Regions from separate parts of the Homo sapiens genome. Here region 1 is linked to region 2. The links come from fine-mapping of genetic effects on plasma protein levels. Region 2 holds a variant in brackets. A gene starts in the other region. All regions are shown on their forward strands.

Evidence for each region. PIP is the chance, under the fine-mapping model, that this variant and not a neighbour inherited with it causes the effect. The UK Biobank Pharma Proteomics Project read protein levels with antibody pairs (Olink). The fine-mapping took linkage between variants from a reference panel, not from the people measured, so its PIPs are less certain.
Region 1: it holds the start of ENDOU, and the variant in region 2 is fine-mapped to the plasma level of the ENDOU protein (UK Biobank, PIP 0.94).

Annotation. Positions count from the first base shown.
Region 1 is chr12:47,721,483-47,732,019 of GRCh38, forward strand. It overlaps ENDOU (endonuclease, poly(U) specific), which reads right to left and starts at 4,008. Exons shown (of 10, transcript NM_001172439.2): 1 at 3,877-4,008. The coding sequence starts at 3,931. It overlaps RPAP3-DT (RPAP3 divergent transcript), which reads left to right. Exons shown (of 4, transcript NR_183480.1): 4 at 7,405-10,537. RefSeq lists silencers at 4,523-4,642, 5,608-5,667.
Region 2 is chr15:90,186,898-90,197,434 of GRCh38, forward strand. It overlaps a transcript of SEMA4B not described here. Among named protein-coding and RNA genes, the nearest start is that of SEMA4B, 9.2 kb to the right of the region's middle. RefSeq lists enhancers at 4,445-4,534, 4,735-5,034, 5,335-5,434. The variant C/T (reference allele first, on the strand shown) is at 4,297.

The sequences.
Region 1 (10,537 bases), not on the chromosome of region 2:
TGTTATTTGCTTCTTTGCTCTTGTCTCCCCTTCTGGTCTTCTCTGCACGCTCTTTCCCCCTGTGTCACATCTTTCTGTTCTTTCCCGTCTTTGGAGTACATTCAGATGAATTTATGCTCAGGGTGGGGAATGAGGCGGGTGCGGGTGAGAATTGGGCTCTGGCATAGCATTCTATTATGTAACCACAGACCACATCCCCCACTGCAGCCAAATGGTTTGCAGAAGCAAGCTTTTGGTCGCAAGGGACATAAGACAAGACATTTTGAAGGAACAGTGGAAACCCACTATCCACTCTGGGCTTTAAGGGTGATAACAGAGTCTTTGTTCGATTTGAGGTTCCTGAGGTTTGGATTTCACGAACGCTGGGTTCAGAGGTCATACTGTGGGTTACAGAGAATGTCAAGATCAGAGTCAGAGTTACCATCAGCATCAGAATTTGTATCAGTGAGGAAACTGAAACCTAATTTGGACCAGGGTTGGGGTTAGTTAGGTTAAGAACTACAGTTAGGATTTGGGCTTGAGTTAAATTAGTTGATAAATTAACAATTTTGTATTGATATTTGGGTAAGGAATAGGAATAGACTTAAGATGACATTCGGGGTTGAGGAATGTGTCAGGATGAGAAAAAGATGAATAATCCCTGTTTTGTTTGGGGGCTTGGTTCTGGTTATGATTCAATACAGGTGTAGTATCTTAATTTAAGCCTGGAGTGGGTTAGAGCTTAAATATTAGAGGTTGGGTTTGGTTACCAGTCCCTAGTATTGGATTCTGGGATTAAGGTTGATACTTTGTCTAATGAGGGACAGCATAGCAGAGAGGTCAAGAACCTAGACTCTGGCGCCAAACTGCTTGAGGCTGGAATTCTGGTTCTACTGCTTTCTAGCTATGTGATCTTGGGCAAGTTATTTGAACTTCTGTGCGTTGGTTTTCGTATCTGTAAAAGTGGGATGATAATGGAGCCTATCTCATAGAATATTTGTAAGAATTAAATGAGTTAATATATGTAAAGCACTTAGGACAGCAAGTGACACATAGTAGTACCATAGAAGTATTTGTTAGGTGAATAAACGGTGGCAATATTTCATGCCCATCTTCCAAGTGACAAGTGTTCAGACTGGCTGGAGCAGTCTTCCCTGTGTTGTGGCCCCGTCGACACACTTAATCTAGCTGACACTCTCCCAGGGTTTCAACAGGGCCATCCCTTGGGCTGGGTTGTCAGCACATCTGTGTTGCTGGTTTCCTGGCTGACTTCATCACTACAGGTCTGTATTCTTTACATCAGAGAGGCATTGGGTCAAGGTTAACCCGGGTCCTCAGACAACTTCACATTGTCAGGCCTCCAAGGTGGGCAGGAAGGCAGGTTTCCAGTCCCTAAAAGAGACCAGGCCCAAGGCCACTTGTTCCTTCAAGCCGGCAGGAACTCCTCTTGAATGTTAAATGATGCTCCCTTGGAGCCTGAATGCAAAGACCTTAAGGAGAAATTTTCAGCCCATCAGCTCCCTGCTCAGTCAGCCTGGCAGTACACCCAGAATCCAAAGGGAGAGAATTCAGGCAAATCAGGGCAATGTTTTTAATGGGCCAAATCAGCAGAGTCCAGGGAAAGAATTCACTTCATTCCAGCAGCTGGCACCAGTTGAGAAGGGTTGCAAGCGAGCAGTCAGCTGGACGTGCAGGAGAGCACCCCCGCCGGCCCAAGCTGAGTGGGCTTTTTCATCTCTGCTCAAGAACTTTGTCTCCAGCAAGAGCCCCATGCCAGCACTTTCTCACATTTCTCTGTGCACTTAGTCTGCTTCAAGGTGACCTTGGGATTTGACAGTGGAGTGCAGGGGTGGGAGGAACTTTTCCTCATAGGCACTTTGCTGTGACATTCTGGGGACACTCTGATGAGTAACTAGTCACCCTAACAACTCACTCCAGCATCCCCACACTGCACCATTAACACCAACACTCTGAGTAAGCCTTGCTCCCCAAGCCAGGTGCCTGAATCACTGCTGTAGTAACCTGTGCCTCTTGTTCCTCTGCCTCACCTCTCTGACTCTCTGCCTTTCTTCATCTGAGCCTTTCCTCTCTCGGGTTCAGATTCTCCCTCCATTCCCCCAAGAAATGCTCAATTTCTCTGCACTTTCTAAGACTTCAATATGCCAGAACAGCCACTCCCTATCCATACTGGCCATCAAGGAAGCTTGGTCCCAAGCCTGGGTGGACACAGTGTCCCTGTACACTGGTGCTCAGCCCCTCTGATGACTGGGACATCCTACACATCTGTACCGTTAGAAGGCCCCAGATGCTGTTTCCATGGAGACCTAGTCAACCAAGAAGCCTCACCCCTTGGACTAGCTTCCTGCCTCCATTCACAACCAAAAAAATCAACCAAGGTTCTCCACAGACATCCAGCTCATAAAGGAGGACCTGAGGCTGTCAGTGATTCCCCATGTGATTCATATTCTTGCCTCTCAGTTCTGAGATGTTGGGATAGTATCAACAAGTGCAGAGCCTCTTCCCTGCCACCTTAGGAAGCCTCATACACTTGACCTCACTTCCCCATCGATCCCACAGCCAAAGCAGATACTGCCCTCCGACCTAGCAGCAAGAGCTCCACCTGCACTTCTAAAGCCACTGCTACCTCTGCCCCCCAGGGACCAAATATCCAGAGTTGCTCTCCTTCCCTAAGGCTGGAATATGCCAAGCCCGCTGGCCACCCCTACACATTAAGCCCCCAAGTTCCACCTTCCTCCCAACCAACAGGGCTGAGGCTGGTGGCTCCCAGGCCCACCCTCATGCTCTCCCACTGCCTCTCCACCCACTAGGGCCCAGGCAGAGCTGGTTTCTGGTAAGATGCACTATCTCATCCATGGTTGGGAGGCACAACTTCCTCTTCCAGGGGTTTTCCACTTAGAAATCCCATAAGGGTCTCCTTTCCACAACCCAGTTGGAAATGACCCCAAGCGGAAGTTTCTCCCAAGAAAATTTATAGTCATAATCATAGCGAATTTCCAGTTCACTGAGATCTCACTTTGCACCAGGTGCTTCTCATACATTATTTCATTTAATCCTTTCCACAGTCCTACACAGGAGCAACCCAGTGGAAGGATTCTTTCTCCTGTGGGCAGAGGAGGATTCTCCCCACACTCCTCAGCTCAGCCCCTCCCTTGGCACTCCTTCCCACCCACCCACTAGCTACCAATTAACCCATCAGCACCAGCATTTTGCACAGTTACTAAACAGGAACATGGTCCTGTTCCTCTGCCAGTCCCATCCCCTGGACCTCTCATAACTGTGGGCCAGGTCCCTTCTGTATTCTTCAATTCTCCTAACACTGCAACAGAGATCCATTCCTCTGACCCCTGTACAGCCCCAGATAGGACGAGGCCCACCTCCTGGTCAAAGGTCCTTTCAGTTTCCTCCTAAGCCTGCCCACCTCCTAAGGCTCTACCCAAAGTAACATCACACCCTAAACAACCTCACCTGTCACCAGGCAGTGGAAGGAGTGACCAAGGGCAGCCAGGCCACTCAGACCCCATGGACACCAGCCCTAGCTTTATTCCTTACAGTGGCCCCAGACAACAAAATCTTGGGGAGATCAAAAGTCAGGCTGGACTAAGGGATATTTGGGGCTGATCCTCCAAGGTGTCAAGAAGGGAATTCCATGAAATCAGACCATCAGCCCTGCAACTCTCTCCACATAGTCCAGTCCATTCCGGGACCAACGCCTGCACCCTCAGACAAGGACAACCCAAAAGTGCTCTGCGGCTTTAGGACAGAGCTCACCCTCCCTTGTCCCACGGCCCTGCCCTCTACCAAGTTCTCCAACTCTCTGCTTCTTTAGGCAAGATCCCGCCCCACCAGCAATCCCATGCCCGCCAGATAGTGACTTACCAGCCCAGGCCAGGCCACACAGCACGGCCAATACCAGGGAGATGCAGGCCCTCATGGTGCCCAGTTGGAGGCCAAAAAGGGAGTGGCTGTTGGACTTTCACTAGAGTCAGATGAATGTCACAGCTCTCAGACGAGCCTTATTCCTCAAGCTGATCCTTTTAAAGACACCAGGACTTGTGGAGCTGGTGTCTCCAGATCCTTTCAGGAAGAAAAAGGGGAGGGAGGGACCCTAGATGGATAGGAGGTGGGGCCCTACAGCTGTTTGAAGCCTGAGGGAAGGTGACTAAGAAGGTAGGTAATGCCAGATGTTGAGAACAGGTAATGCTAGCTGTTTGCAGCTTAAAAAATAGGTCATGCAGGCAGGCACACCAAGATGGGTCCAGTTTGGAGGGTTCTTTGTCCAAATTAGGGACACCCATGGGCTGATCTTTGGGTGATCCCCACCAAACAGACACCTACTTCCAAGTCTCAGACCTGACTTTCCAAGGGGCCACAGGTTGGATTCATCTTCAAATTCCTGGAGCTTAGCATGACACTGGCACACAGTAAGGTGATTGGTCCAAATTTGACAAACAGTAAGTGCCCAAGCAAGGGTTGGGGTCATTGGACAGAGAGATAGAGGATGTGTCGGTCAGAACCAGTGCTATTCTTATGACCACCAAGCCCAGCATAGCTAAATCAGCCACATGTCGAGCGCATGGCTAAATCACTCTAAAATATTATGCAAATGACTCTTACTGAGTCAGCCTCTGGGGTTTAAACGTTTCAGATTCCTTATGAGGCAGGGGAGGGGCAAGAGGCCTCTTAAAGGCAGCCGAAGGCCCACTCTTCTTCCCCTGGGAGCCCAGGGTTTCACTCCCTTCACCCCAACTTACACTCCTCTCCTCAGGAACTCCTCCCCAGTGAGGTTCTTTTGTTTCCAAGTCCAAAAGAAGGGGAGCAGCTCCCCGTGACTGTCCAGTTTTCCCCGATAATAAAGGTAAAATCTGCCAAGTATGATGCCCTTGCCAGAAAGAGCACTGCATGGGGATTCTCAACCCTCTCAGGAAAGAAAACTATCATATAAAAAGGCAAAATTGGTGAACAGTGGAGGCCACTCTATCAGTGATTTTTTTCTGGAGGTTGGGAGTGGAGCACGTCTTCATCCAGTGTGCTTTAACAGGAGAAGTTTCTTCCTCTCGCTGGTCTTCAGCTTTCTCATCTGAAATGATGGGGTTGGATCTGACAATCCCTTCCAGGTTCTCAGACTTTAATCTCGAGTTTTCCTGCCCATGCGCCAGGTTGAACAGTTGCTGGTGGGTTAAAGAGAATCCCCCAGCCTGTTGCTGTGTAGAGAGGAGTCCAAACATAGGGACTCAGGGGTAGAGAGAAGGACAAGCCTAGGGCAAGCAAACTTTGCAAGGGGCTCACACAGGAAGTGCAATGTATGTATATATTTTGAGATGGAATCTCTCTCTCTGTCGCCCAGGCTGGAGTGCAGCAGTGTGATCTCGGCTCACTGCAACCTCCATCTCCCCAGCTCAAGCAATTCTCATGCCTCAGCCTCCCGAGTAGCTGGGATTATAGGCATGCACCACCACACCTGGCTAATTTTTGTATTTTTAGTAGAGACCATGTTGGCCAACCTGATCTCAAACTCTTGACCTCAGGTGATCTGCCCACCTTGGCCTCCCAAAGTGCTGGGATTACAGGTGTGAGCCACTGCATCCAGCCCGGAAGCACAACTAAAGAGTGAGCCTAGCCCTTCTCTCCCAGAAGGGAGCTGGTTAGAATGAGTAAGAGCAGAAATGGCTGCTTCATTTGCATAGATTTCATTTACACAATCCAAAAGCAGGCTGAAGAGTCACTGCCCCTCAGAATCCTCATCCTCCCTGGGTTGGCACCACATAAACGTGTCTCTGACTCCTGTTGTTTAGGGGACAAAGGAGGGTGTCACTGGCTGGCCTGGGAAGCAATGATGCCTCAGAATTTGGGAATGAATGGTCTGTCCCTTCCAAGTGTCCAGCTGGGTGGACCCTAGCTGAAGCCAAAGCTGTCAGAGTGGAGTACAGCCTGGCTAGGTTCTCCTAGTGTCCAGCTGAACTGGCCATGGGATGGTGTTTTGAGGGCAGGAGCTCTCCCCCCATTAATGGAATTTTAGGTCAGGAGCAAGGATTGGAGCTGGGGAAGACAGTTAAGGATGACTCCATAGAGCCAGATGGTTCATCTGAGTACCCAAGTGTTTAAAACTGCATCCTTCAATAAGAATAACAGCCTTAACAACCACCAGCAACATTGACTGAGCACTTACCACGTGTGTTATCATATGTGTTATCTCATTGATTCTCACTACAACCTTAATAGGTACTATTGCTGTCCTCATTTTACAGATGAAGAAACTGAGGCACAGAAAGGTTAGGAGACGTGCCCAGAAGCACACAATCATTAAGTTATGCAGCTGTGCCTCAACCCAGATCCATCTGACCAGGGGTCATTCTCATAAGCACCGTTGCTCCATTGCCCCACAACATCACACTTTGAACGACCACTTAATCATGTCTGGTTACTATACAAAGCAGTCTAGATTTAAATTCACTGGAATTAAAGGGACCTCAACTGCCATCTAGTTCCACTTCTCATAGGATGTCACAACTCCCTAAACAACCCTAAGTGCTTGTCCTGCCTCTCCTTCATTGCCTCTGGTGCTGAGGGTTGAGGGGTGGGGAATTGGGATATGCCCTCCCACGGCTGCTCATACGCCCTCTTCGCAGATCGGATTCCCAAACCCCAGATTTTATAACCGAAGACATGCTGACAAAGGCAGAAAAAATCCATTAAGCCAATAAATGAAAATATATCAATACATATTCATGCAAAGATGCCTCATAAACTTAGATGTCCATGTATGTGTGTATACACACACACACACACACACACACACACACACAAAAAGAGAGAGAGAGAGAGAGAGAGAGAGAGAGAGATACATTAAGATAGATTTCAGGCAGCTTTCTCTTCCCTGCTAGCCTGTTGTGGACCAAGAACTCTGCGGCTCCTCTTTCTGAGTACCCCCCGCCATTAGGTACTCACATGGGCTTTCCATCCTTGCAGACTTCCCAAGAAGCCACAGTGGGACCAGCCAGCAAGTTGGGAATTGTGGTAGGCTGGGTCCTGGAGAGCTGGGGTAGGGAGAGAGTGGAGGGAGATGCATGGTGGATGGTGTCTCAATGATGAGAATAGCGACAGAGATGGTGCAGTTGTGTCCTCTGTGGAGGTCTGGAGAGTGGGGAAGAGGGTGAGGCTGCTTGGGCAAGGATTTGGGAGGCACTCAGCTGTGAGAGACATAGAGGGTGGGAATTCCATCAGCCAAATATTTATCGAGTGCTCACTACACATCAGGGGCTATGCTGTTATTGGACTGGCAGGGTTCAGGCTAGGCTGGAAAACTCTTCCTGGAACTGATTGGTTTCTGGTGGGACAGAAGCCAGATAAGCCTCAGCATTAGGGCATTGTTTGAAGTAGGCCTCATTCATCTCTGGGCTACCACAGGTGTCTGGGGTCTGTCAGGATCAACAGGCCTTGAGAGAGACTGACCCAGAGGACTACTAAAAGGGACACCTGCCCAGGCCAGCCTATTCTACCATCCTCGTTCTCCTGCAAAACCAAGGCCACGTCATTTCAGCAGAGGACCTGCGTGTGGAAGGACCCTGCAGCTGGCCCATCACAGGAGAGGCCCAGACTCACCTCCCAAGGGGACCCTGGCACATGAAGATGCTGGTTCTCCTGGGAGTGCTGCCCTGGCCCACAGGATAGAAGCGCAGGATGGTCACCCATGTCTGCTCTTATTGAATGTGTCTTAGAAGCGGCTCCATGTGTGATTTCTTTCCCACATTGGTTAGTATGGTGTATACCACGTTTGTGTTCCCAGGCTTTTGTTTAAGTTTGTGGGCAGCCCTGACATCAGCATCACACTCAATGCCTGGGCTGAGCATATCCGTCAGACCTCCCAACTAGGCCCACTCATCACATAGTCCCATGCTGCACTTCTAGTTCTGCCAGCCACACCCCATGCTGGTCCTCAGCCTGGAACACCCTCCCCCACCCTCCCTGCTCAGCTGTCCAGCTCCTACTCATCCTCCGGCCCCAGGGCAAATTCACTCTTCCACAAAGCCTGACCTCTCTTCAGCCCACAGGATCTCTCCTGCCTAGGAGCTTGGTTGTGCATATTTGTCCTGTGTGCCTTTGACACAGCACAGTCATCTCTGACTGCCAACATCTGTTGCTGCCAACATGGTATCAGTTAACCCCTGCACTGCCATTTAACTTTTCCTCTGAAGTTCTTTGAGAAGGGGACCCTGCCTCATGGGCCCTTTGTATTGCCATCCAATGTGTGTTAGAATCTAAACAGTTAGATAATTATCAACCTGTGCCTGAGACCTGCAATGAATCAATATGTAAATGAATCAGGGCACTGGTCAGTCTTCCAGCCCCACTTGATATTAAAGACTCAGTGAAGATGGTTAGCAAAGCAGAGGACAGCAAATGGGTCTCCGGCAGCTGTGAAGCACCAGAGTTTATCCAAAGGGGGGACGTGGGGTCTAGAGACTCATCTCAAAGTTGCATTTTCATAACAAATACACTGGGTTTTTTTTTTTTTTAGCTATATTGTGTATTTGTTGGGGCCTAATGGAAATTTAGGAGGACCTAAACCCCCAAGCCACCCTTGGCACCACCCCTACAAGGGGCAGCCACCACAGGGACTGGACAGTTCCAGCAGTTTCTGAATCCACAGTGTCACAGAGATCTCAGCTGTATCCTGCTTTTTTAGGATCCCAAAGGAACCATCTGCCTACACTCTTTGCCAGCTGTGCTAATGTTTGTTTTACACTGCCCAGTAATGATTATAAAATTACTATTGCATGTCCTCAAACTCCACTGGCTTTAAAGAGGGTCTAGAGGCACAATGAGAACAAGGAGATGTGGGCAAGACAGGCAGACAGCGATAAGGAGGTTCAGAGAGACAGCGAGGGAGTGAGTAAGGGCGAGATCAAGAGAGAGACAGGCCCGAGGCCAACCCGCAGCTGACCGCTGGCGTGAGGAACATGGGCTGCCTCTCGCCCCAGGTATGTTGGCACAGCTGGGCTGTTCTGGCCTCAAAGATGATGACAGGACAACAGGACTGGCAGGAGCGGTTCCTGACCCATGATTTGAAATCTACAATCTGTCAAAATTACCATAATTATTGTGCTAAGGTAGTTGGGTTATGGGAAATTCCCCCTTTCTCATTCATTCCTTCATTCACCTGACAAATAGCACTTGAATGCCACTGTGTGCCAGACACTGTGATAAGCAAAGTGGATAAAGGGTGAGCAGCTCAGCAGCTGGAGAGAAAGAAAGACATAAATAAAGAGCGTCTACAGCCAGATCTGGGCAGCAGGACATGAGGCTCAGACTGTTGATTCTAAAGCCAAGCTGCCTGGGTTTGAATCCCAGCTCTGCCACCCACCAGCTGTACAATCCTGGGCAAGTTCCCTGACCCCTCTGTGCCTCAATTTCCCCCGTAGATCTAAAATAGAACAAGTAAGAGTACCTTAGAGGGCTATGGTGAGGATTGAATAAGTTAATCCTTGCAGAGGTTTTAGAACAGTGCCTAATAAATAAGGCCAGATGTTTGTTGTTAAAAAAAAAAATAGGGCCACGAAGGGCGTAATTTAGATAGGATGGTTAGGAAAAGCCTGAAAAATGAATGTTAACAATGTTCTGTGGCTGGGCGCGGTGGCTTACGCCTGTAATCCCAGCACTTTGGGAGGCCGAGGCAGGCAGATCACCTGAGGTCAGGAGTTCAAGACCCGCCTGGCCAACATGGTGAAAACCCATCTCTACTAAAAATACAAAAAGTAGCTGGGCGTGGTGATGCACATCTGTAATCCCAGCTACTTGGGAGGCTAAGACAGGAGAATCGCTGGAACCAGGGAGGTGGAGATTGCAGTAAGCCAAGATCTCACCACAGCACTCCAGCCTGGGCAACAGAACAGGACTCCGTCTCCAAGAAATAAAAATAAAAAAAATACAAAGAAAAGTGTTCTGGGCTGGGCGCAGTGGCTCATGCCTGTAATCCCAGCACTTTGGGAGGCCAAGGCAGGCAGATCACGAGGTCAGGAGATTGAGACCATCCTGGCTAACATGGTGAAACTCCATCTACTAAAAATACAAAAAACTAGCTGGGCGTGGTGGCAGGCGCCTGTAGACCCAGCTACTCAGGAGACTGAGGCAGGAGAATGGCATGAACCCGGGAGGTGGAGCTTTCAGTGAGCTGAGATCGCGCCACTGCACTCCGGCCTGGGCGACAGAGCAAGACTCCGTCTCAAAAAAAAAAAAAAAAAGTTCTGAAAATGACAATAGTGAGAAGGTGGCAGCTCCTCTAATCTACAGTCTCTATAATGTAATATTTATTTTATAATTCCAAAGATAATATTTTCATTTAAAAAACGTGCACCCTCGGTATTTTCAAGTCTTGGGGATGGCCCTTTGATGAGTCGCACTGTCTAACTCACCTGGTTTGGTGCCAAAAGGAACCACCTGTTTTCTGGGGCTGTGGCCTGCAGCCTTAGGAACAGTGCTTTGCTCTGGGGGAAGCTAAAAGTTGCAATGGGGCTAAGCTAAGAGCAGCAACTCCATGGCT
Region 2 (10,537 bases):
ACTCCAGCCTGGGCGACAGAGCAAGACTCCGTCTCAAAAAATAATAATAATAAAAAACAAAAAAATAAAAATAAAATAAATAAAGATTGGGGACATTGGCAACAGTTGAACTAAAGATGGGAAACGGAGACTTGTGCCTTGGGGAGAGCTGAGTCTCCCCGCTGCATGGGTCTTGTGCCTTGAGGCTCTTGCTTTAATGTAGTATCTGACTACATTGGACAGGATGGTCCAAAGTAAGTCCCTGGGAGCCAAGCATTCAGCCACTCTCCAAAATACCATCTCTTCTGAAGCCAGCAAAGCTGGTGAGCCTGGAGCTAAGCAAGAAAACTGTTTAGCTTCCCTAAAGCAGGGAAATGGGACTCTAGTCCTGCCTCTATCCGTGTGGTGCTGTTTCCTTTGAAAGGGATAACAGAAAAGTGGGGGAAAAGATCCAGGAAGGAAAACGTGAATGAATCCTTTGGAAATGATTTGAGACAGCTAGAGCAGAAGACATTTGCTGGGTACCTGCTGTTTCCATGTTCTGTCCTGGGGCTGGAGATGAAAAAGCTGAGTTAGGCAGGCCTTGTCCCTGCATTCAAGGAGCTTGTAGAAGAGAAGGGAAGAGAGGGATGTGATGTGTAAGTGAGTATTTCACTGCAGCATAATGAGGTCCTAATAAGAATCTGAGCAGAGTGCAGAGGGAACTCGCAGGAGCAACTCTGGAAATTAGTTGAAAACAGCAGGATTCTAGCCTGGGAGCACTTCTAGAACTCTGCCAAGTTGGCCGTGGCCACTACCTTTGTTGGAAACAAAGCATAAGGGAGTGAAAGTGTCTAAAGAAAGGTGGGGGCTGGGTGCAGTGACCCACGCCTGTAATCCCAGCATTTTGGGAGGCCGAGGCAGGCAGATCACGAGGTCAGGAGATTGAGACCAGCCTGACCAATATGGTGAAATCTTGTCTCTACTAAAAATACAAAAATTAGCCGGGCATGGTGGTGCATGCCTGTAATCCCAGCTACTCAGGAGGCTGAGGCAAGAGAATCGCTTGAACCCAGGAGGCGGAGGTTGCAGTGAGCTGAGATCATGCCATTGCACTCCAGCCTGGGTGACAGAATGAGACTCCATCTCAAAAAAAAAAAAAAAGAAAGAAAAGAAACGTGGGTCAGGCATGGTGGCTCATGCCTGTAATCCCAGCACTTTGGGAGGCCAAGGTGGGTGGATCGCTTGAGTCCAGGAGTTCGAGACCAGCCTGGGCAACATGGTGAAACTCAGTCTCTACAAAAAATACAAAAATTAGCCGAGCATGGTGGCCCATGCCTGTAGTGTCAGCTATCCAGGGCGCTGAGGTAGAAGGATCACCTGAGCCAAGGGAGGTTGAGGCTTCAGTGAGCCATCAATCATCCTGCCACTGCATTCCAGCTTGGGTGGCACAGTGAGACACTGTCTCAAAAATAAAATAAAATAAAAGTAGCCAGGCGAGGTGGCTTATGCCTGTAATCCTAGCATTTTGGGAGGCCGAGGTGGGCGGATCACCTGAGGTCAGGGGTTCAAGACCAGGCTGGCCAACATGGTGAAACCCTGTCTCTACTAAAAATACAAAAATTAGCCAGGCATGGTGGCGCATGCCTGTAATCCCAGCTACCCGGGAGGCTGAAGCAGGAGAGTTGCTGGAACCTGGGAGGCGGAGGCTGCAGTGAGCCGAGATCGCACCACTGCACTCCAGCCTGGACGACAGAACAAGACTCCGTCTCAAAATAAATAAATAAATAAAAATAAATGTAGATCAGGATACGTATTGTCTTTTTTTGTTTGTTTTTTGAGACAGAGTCTCGCTCACTCTGGGTGCAGTGGCGCTATCTCGGCTCACTGCAAGCTCCGCCCCCCGGATTCATGCCATTCTTCTGCCTCAGCCTCCCGAGTAGCTGGGACTACAGGCACCCACCACCACGCCCGGCTAATTTTTTTGTATTTTTAGTAGAGACGGGGTTTCACCATGTTAGCCAGGATGGTCTACGATCTCCTGACCTCGTGATCCGCCCGCCTCAGCCTCCCAAAGTGCTGGGATTATAGGCATGAGCCACCGCGCCCAGCCAGGATGAATATTCTCTGAAAGAACAGTTTAAAGGATCCTGATAAACTAAGCTCTGTGAAGGCAGCAACCACGTCAGTTTCCTTAAACTTGAGCAATACTTAGAAGGCAGCAAGTGCACAAGAAATATGTGTTGCATGAATGAAAGAAGGAAGTGGGGGGGAGGAAGGAAAAGGAGGAAGTGAGCGAGGGCAGGAAGAAAAGGGAAGGAAGGGAGAGGAGAGAAGTGAAGGAAGGAAGAAAAGGTAGGAAGGAGGGAGGGAAGGAAAGAAGGAAGGATAAACATTGGCTTATATTATCAGAAGAGGTGGATGGCTATAACTTGAGACAAAACGTGGTTGATTTCTGACTATAGGTTGAATATCCATATGGGTTCTGGAGTCAGCAGATCTGAGTTGTGGTCCTAGTCCTGACTTGTCACTTGTGTGACCTTAGTAAGTCCTGGAACCTCTCTATGCCCCAATTTCTCACTTCTGAAATGGCAATAATAACTGATATCTCACCCTGTAGTGAGAATTAAGTAAATGATTGAATGTAAAAATTTGGCACAATCCTCACTTATAGTAGGTGCTCAATAAATATTAATTAGCTATATAAATGTCAACTTTGATGTAGCTGGAAAGAATTTGCCAAATATTTCATGTCAAGGTTATATAACTATTCCAAACTGAGGTATAATTTCTTTTTTTCTGATAAAGGCTAATTTTGAAAGTTCCTTGTGTCTGCAGACTAACGCACCTTAGAGAAATGGTTCTTTACTTTTTTTGGCGGGGAGTGGGGGCTGGTAGCAAGGAGCTTTTGAAATTAAATGAAAGCTCTGATTCCCTCTCTCCTGAAATGGCATCTCATTCTTGGCGTTCACAGCTCCCTGAAGCCCACCCGTGTGGTGAAGGGGGTCCCTGCTCTGCTGCACTGCTCACAGGCTATAGTGAAAGAACTCAGGCAGCATTCATAGAAGAGGTGGCTGGGAGGAGCAAGCAGGGTCAGCCGTCTTTCAAGGGGTTTGTGGAAACCAAAAGATGAGACGGCTAGAGATAAGCACATGTGGCCCCGTGGGTGCGTCCTCTTAGAGCCCACTCTCCTGCTAGGGCCAAGCTGGGGCTCACTCAGAACCTTGTGGGCTCCAGAGTCCCTGGTGTGGTGCCCACCAGCCGGACCCTCATTCACAGTGCATAAATGGTGCTGCAGGGTGGCTGCTGTGTGAGATTCCTATCCAGGCATGGATCTTTGGTGCCACCCTCACATCAGCTTTCTGTGAGTGTTGTCTCCTAATACCACTGCTTTAGGGTGGCAAGTGGGCACACTGCCACAGGTGGTGCATTCCTCAGAACCTCCACCCTGGCAAAGCAGGGTGAGAGTACAGCCTACAGAGCCTTAGGAGATCCGTGGCAACCCGTCTGTGCATCCCCGCTACCCACCTAGGCATACCTGTTCCTGCCCACTCTCTGGGATCAGCATCAGAACCAAGAGCAAGGCTCTGTCTGGGAGTAAGAGTGGCAGCCACCAGGTGACCTGAGGTGATGGGGAAACTCCAGGGTCAGAGAGCTCCTCCTCCCTGGGAAGGAAGAGGCAGAGGGGAGAGCCTTGGGCCTTTGGGAAGGAAGGTTGGTTTCCTGAGGTGGAGGGAGGGCCCTGGCCTGTTCCTTTTTCCCCTCACAGGGGTCTGGTGCTCAGACTGGGATTTTAGAGGGAATAACTCGATAGCAAATGGGGAGGTAGATTCCTCACTTCATGGGATCTTTGGAACCAGGGTGTGTGTCTGTGTGTGTCTGTGTGTGTCTTGCTCTGTGTCTGTGTCAGTGTCTTGCTCTGTGTGCATGTGTGTGTATGTGTGTGTGTCAGTGTCTTGCTCTGTCACCCAAGCTGGAGGTACCATCGTGACTCATTGCAGCCTCTACCTCTCAGGTTCAAGTGATCCTTGCACCTCAACCTTCCAAGTAGCTGGGACCACAGGAGCACACCACCACACCTGGCTAATTTTTAATTTATTTTTTGTAGAGACCGGGTCTTCCTATGTTGCCCATCTGGTCTCCCCTGGACAGGCGAGTGGGTGCAAAAGCAGAGGCAGACAGCGCCTCCTGAACTCATATTGGGGGAGCAGAGGAGTGACAGTGGCAACTTCATGTTCTACCCTGTCAGGGCAGGGACAGGTTGAGCCCTGCTGATTGCCCCACAGCCCTGTGGGGCGGAGGGATCCCCTCCCAGGGAGTGGCCAGCTCAGGCCCCAA[C/T]AGGCCCCAGTGGGGGTGGTGCTGGGTGTCAGGCTCCTCACCACAGCGGACGCACCTGGGACTTGGGCTGGGCGGGCCGGTTCTTTCTCCCCATGAGAGTTGCAGCCTCAGCACCAGCTTTGCAGGAGGTGGCTGAACTTGAGGGAGTACCCAGAAGGGGGTCCTCAGAGATGGGCATCTAAGATACTTCAGAGTTGTTGACGCCATGGGGCAACTTTCATGGGGAGGTGAACCAATAACATAGCAGGCATGGCCTTGCTCACTGAGCATTCACTACATGCCAGTGTTGCCCGTGGCTTTATATGTACTCTCTCCAGCCACCCATGAAGTGCTGTTCATAGCACTCCGTCCTAGATGAAGAAGCTGAGGTTCAGAGTGATTGTGTGGCTTGCTAAAAGTCCACAAAATATGGAAGGTAGTGAATTCTTCTGACAGAAGAACCTGTGTGCTCAACCACTGGATTCTACCACTTCCAGGAGCAAGAAAAACAAGAGGCCGGTAGCGGGGAAAATGGTTTGGGGAACGGAGATGAAGCCATTTATTTACATCTGTTGCCAGACCCTGGGTAAAAGCTGCCAGTGAGTTTTGAAGGCAGTGTAAGTGCTGACCCGGGGTGGATGCCCTCTGCTGCAGAAGGCGCTGCCCCAAGGAAGCTCCCAGCCCTGAGGACTTGGCAGCCATTGGCTGATTTGAAAGAATACACAGGGTGTGCCAGCTGGTGTCGCTTCCTCTTCAACATGTACTGATGCTGCAGCTGAGCTGCTGCCCAGCCCCTGGGGAGAAGACACCAGCAGCATGCCCAGCCAGGGCAGGGTGGAGAGCTGCAGCTGCAGGTTGGCATAAGAGGAGAGCTCAGGGCTACAAGGGGATGGTGGTGGGGGGCCAAGGCCTGGAGAGCTGGGCTGCAGCCAGTGTATGTCTGCGAGGCCTTGCTGGGCAGCCTGCCAGTCAGCACCCGAGAATGGGGAGGAGCTTGAGTGCTACCCCAGGAGGGGGCGGGTGGGACCTTTGGGTTCAAGCTCCACTGGGCTTGGCAGGAGGCCCCTCCCCCACAGCCAGCAAACAAAGCAACAACTCCCAGAGTAGAACTGTGGGAGCTCCAGAGCCAGGTTCCCCTGGGTGGGAATTAGAGCAGGCAGACCTGGCCAGGAGCCGCCTGGCAGGGACCATCCATGCCCAAGGACATGGCCTGCATGCAGCTGGGCAGAGGCTGTACCCATGGATGATTAATGGGTATTGATCACTTGGGAGGCCAGATGTAGCCTGGACACTGCTGGCACTTGCCCTGCATCTGTTCCCTTTGTACTGGGCAGGGTAGAGAAGCAGCAGGGATGTGTGTTCATTTGCTTTTTACTTTTAGCCATGCTTCCCTTTATTTTCTTTCCCTTGTAGCTTTTTTTTTTTTTTTTTTTTTGAGATGGAATCTTGCTCTTGTCACCCAGGCTGGAGTGCAGTGGCACGATCTTGGCTCACTGCAGCCTCCGCCTCCTGGGTTCAAGCAATTCTCCTGCCTCAGCCTCCCGAGTAGCAGGGATTACAGCCTCACGCCACCATGCCTGGCTAATTTTTGTACTTTTAGTAGAGATGGGGTTTTGCCATATTGGCCAGGCTGGTCTCAAACTCCTGACCTTGTGATCCTCCCGCCTTGGCCTCCCAAAGTGCTGGGGTTACAGGCATGAGCCACTGCGCCTGGCCTCGTTTCGGCCTCTTTATAATGGATTCCTATACACATTCTTGTGCTTCTGTCCTTGTGTATGTATGTGTGTGTGTATGAGAGAGAGAAAAATGAGGAAGGTCCATGGGGAGGAGGTGCCAGAGCGTGTGAGTGTGGATGGAGAAGAGGCCAGCTTTGATGATGACTTCATTTTGCTGGCCAAGGCACGGAGGAAGCAGTGCTTTTCTCTTCGTCTCTTATTTTGGTACTCCCTTTCCAAGCTGCCTCCTGAGCTCTTTATAAACACTGGCATTCTGGCTGAGAAAGACTCGCCAACATCCAAGAGTGGCAAAGGGGAACAGGAGACACATCGTTGGCTTGGGAACCGCTCCCGCTCGCAGGAAGTCTGCTCACAGGAGATTTTTCTCTGTCAGTGTCCTCGTGTGGTTTCTAGTCTGGGGAGAACACATCAGCACACTAACGGAAGAAAGGGGAGCCCGCAAAGACCAAAGCTGCTGTGCTGGGGGCGTGGATTCGAGGGCTCTTCTCCAGGCTGACAGCTGGGACCCTCATTTTGTCAGCCCTGTGGAGTTCCTACTAGAGTGCCATGCAAGGCAGTGGGGATTTGGAAGATGGAAGTCCTGTCACTGTCCTCAAAGGACTTGCTGCCCAGTCGACATAAGACATATTGGAAGCATTTGAGCAGGATATGATTATCCGCTTAGTGAGGCCGCATCAGCCCCTGTCTCCTCTGCTCTGAGATGAGCACAGCAGTCACACAACTCATGTGTTGCCAAGACACCAGGGCAAAGCAGCCCCACTGCCATTTTAGGATCTGCTTGATGTGGAGATTCAGGGACTCAACAAATAGTGATTGAGCATGTGGCCAACATCAGGTACTGTTCTAGGTGAGTGCAGTAGGCAGAAGGTAGAAGAAGGAAATGTAGCTAGTACCTTGACTTTGACAAGATTTCTTGCAATCTTTTTCATAATATTCTTTTTTTTTTTTTGGGTTGGTCGGGGGGACGGAGTTTCACTCTTGTGCCCAGGCTGGAGCACAGTGGCGCCATCTTGGCTCACTACAACCTCTGTCTCCCGGGTTCAAGCGATTCTCCTGCCTCAGCCTCCTGAGTAGCTGGGATTATAGGTGTGCACCACCACGCCCGGCTAATTTTCATATTTTTAGTAGAGACAGCGTTTCATCATGTTGGCCAGGCTGGTTTCGAACTCCTGACCTCAGGTGATGCGCCCACCTCAGCCTCCTAAAGTGCTCAGATTACGGGCAATGAGCCACTGCTTTCAGCCCATAATAGTCTTATGGATAATATGGAGAAATGTGGGCTGAACAGTGCAGTTAGGAGGACACATAGCTAGTTGTTCAGCCTATAAAAGATATTGATCAGGCCAGGCGTGGTGGCTCACACCTGTAATCCCAGTACTTTGGGAGGCCAAGGCAGGTGGCTCACCTGAGGTCAAAAGTTCGAGACCAGCCGTGACCAACATGGTGAAACCTCGTCTCTACTAAAAATACAAAATTAGCCGGGCGTGGTGGCGCATGTTTGTAATCCCAGCTACTCGGGAGGCTGAGGCAGGAGAATCGCTTGAACCCACGAGGCAGAGGTTGCAGTGAGCTGATATCATGCCATTGCACTCCAGCCTGGGCAACAAGAGTGAAACACCATCTCAAAAAAAAAACAAAAAACATATTGATCTGTTCTAACCTTGATGGAGGTCTCTAGTGGCGTGCCATTGGGCTCCGTTTGTGACTCTGTCTCACCCATTTATTTATTTACTTACTTATTTTCAGGCTCCCAAAGTGCTGGGATTATAGGTGTGAGCCACCGTGCCTGGCTGTCACCCATTTTTGTTTAATCACTCAAAATTTTAAATGGAAAGATTAGTACAAAAACACCCAATAACTCTTCACCTATATTGACCAGTTTTTGCCAGTCACATTCATGTTCTTTCTCTCTAGTACATGCACATACATATATATGCACATTTGTTTTTGCTGAATCATTTGAAAGTAAGTTGTAGACATCGTGACATTTCAACTGTAAAGCTTCAGCAGGTGTCTCTGAAAGACCAGGACTTAATCACATCTGAGAAATGCCATTATCATAGCTAAAAAAATGAAGAATGCCATAATATCATCTAATACACAGTCCATATTAAAATTTCCCCAATTGCTCCATGGCTTTTTTTTTTTTTCCAACATTCAATCTTCAATCAAGGTTCACACGTTGCTATTGATTTTGTTTGTTTTTTTTTAGACAGGGTCTCATTCTGTCTCTTAGGCTGGAGTGCAACAGCATGGCTCCCTGCAGCTTTGACCTCCTGGGCTTAGGTGATCCTCCCACCTCAGCCTTTCAAGTAGCTGGGACTACAGGTGCGCACCACCATGCCTGAGTAATTTTGTATTTTTTGTAGAGACCAGTTTCACCCTGTTGCCCAGGATGGTCTTGAACTTCTGGGCTCAAGTGATCCACCTGCCTTGGCCTCCCGAAGTGCTGGGATTACAGGTGTCAGCCACCTCGCCTCGCTGCATTTGATTATTATGTCTTTTTAGTCCCTTAACCTAAAACAGCCCCACCCCTGTCTGTTTTGCCTCTCACTAGATTGCCCTTTCTGAAGAGTCCAGGCTAGTTGTCTTGTAGAATACTACTCATGCTGGATGGGTCTGATTGTGTTTTCATTGTTAGATCTGGGTTACAACACACCTTTGAGAAGAATGCTGCAAACATTGATGATGTTTTGTACTTGTTGTTTTTTCTTTTTTTGAGACAGGGTCTCACTTTGTCACCCAGGCTGGAGAGCAGTGGCGTGATCTCAGCTCACTGCACCCTTGACCTCCTAGGTTCAAGCAGTCCTCCTGCCTCACCCCCCGAAGTAGCTGGGACTACAGGCATGCGCCACCATACCTGGCTAATTTTTGTAATTTTTGTAGAGACGGAGTTTTGCCGTGTTGCCCAGGTTGGTCCCGAACCCCTGAGCTCAGGCAGTCTGCCTGCCTCGGCATCCCAAAATGCTAGGATTCCAGGCGTGAGCTGCTGGGCCCAGCCTGTTTTGTACTTCTCTTTTTTTTTTTTTCGAGACGGAGTCTCGCTCTGTCACCAGGCTGGAGTGCAGTGGCGCGATCTCGGCTCACTGCGAGCTCTGCCTCCTGGGTTCACGACATTCTCCTGCCTCAGCCTCCCAAGTAGCTGGGACTACAGGCGCCCGCCACCATGCCTGGCTAATTTTTTTTTTTTTTTGTATTTTTAGTAGAGACGGGGTTTCACCGTGTTAGCCAGGATGGTCTCGATCTCCTGACCTCGTGATCCGCCCGCCTCGGCCTCCCAAAGTGCTGGGATTCCAGGCGTGAGCTGCTGGGCTTAGCCTGTTTTGTACTTCTTATTGCATCATATCAGGAGGAAAATTACGTCAAATAGTCCCATTACTATGATGCTACTTTTGTCTAATTGGTTAAGATTGAGGCCCCGAGATCTCTCCCTTAGAGATAAATGTTCCCTTTGGTAATTAGTAAGTCATCTGTGGGACAGACCTTGTTAACATATAGTTTCGTAACAATCTTCCACCCAATGGTTTCCCATCCACTGATGATTCTTACTTGAATCTAGATTTTCTAATTCTATCACCATTTCTTCTACTTTTTTTTTGAGACAGAGTCTCGCTGTCGGTCAGGCTGGAGTGCAGTGGCGTGATCTCGGATCACTGCAACCTCCGCCTCTTGAGTTCAAGAGATTCTCCTGCCTCAGCCTCCCGAGTAGCTGGGACTACAGGTGCGTGCCACCACGCCCAGCTAATTTTTTTGTATTTTTAATAGAGACGGGGTTTCACCATGTTAGCCAGGATGGTCTCGATCTCCTGACCTCGTGATCCGCCCGCCTCAGCCTCCCAAAGTGCTGGGATTACAGGCGTGAGCCACTGCACCCGGCCTCTTCTACATTATTAACCAGCATTTTTTGGTAAAGAAAAGCTTCCTTTTCACCCCTTATTTTTTCTCTCTCTCTGGGTTTCACTGTGGACTAATGGATTGTTTTTAAATTTAATGTATTAATCCATTACTTCATTATGTTTTAATGCTCAGATTGGTCATCAAGCTGGTTCCGATGTCCTTTGGACATGGCCTCATTAGTTTCTGATCATTGCTTTCTGGCCCAACAAAATGTCTCATGTTTATGTCGTACTTTCCCTTACATTCACCCAAAGAATCTTGGTTCTCTTATTAGAGAGTAGGATTAGGAAACCAAGATTGGCCAGGTACAGTGGTTCATGCCTGTAATCCCAGCACTTTGGGAGGCCGAGGTGGGCAGATCGCTTGAGTCCAGGAGTTTGAGACCAGCCTGGGCAACGTGGTGAAACCCCTTTCTCTACAAAAAAATTACAAAAATTATCCGAGTGTGGTGGTGCATGCCTGTAGTCCCAGCTACTCAGGAGGCTCAGGTGGAAGGATTGCTTGAGCCTGAGAGGTGGAGGTTGTAGTGAGCTGAGATCTTGCCACTGTACTCCAGCCTGGGTGACAGAGTGAGACCCTCTCTCAATAAAAAAGAAAAAAGTAAACGAAGATTTAGGTGCTAGATCTGC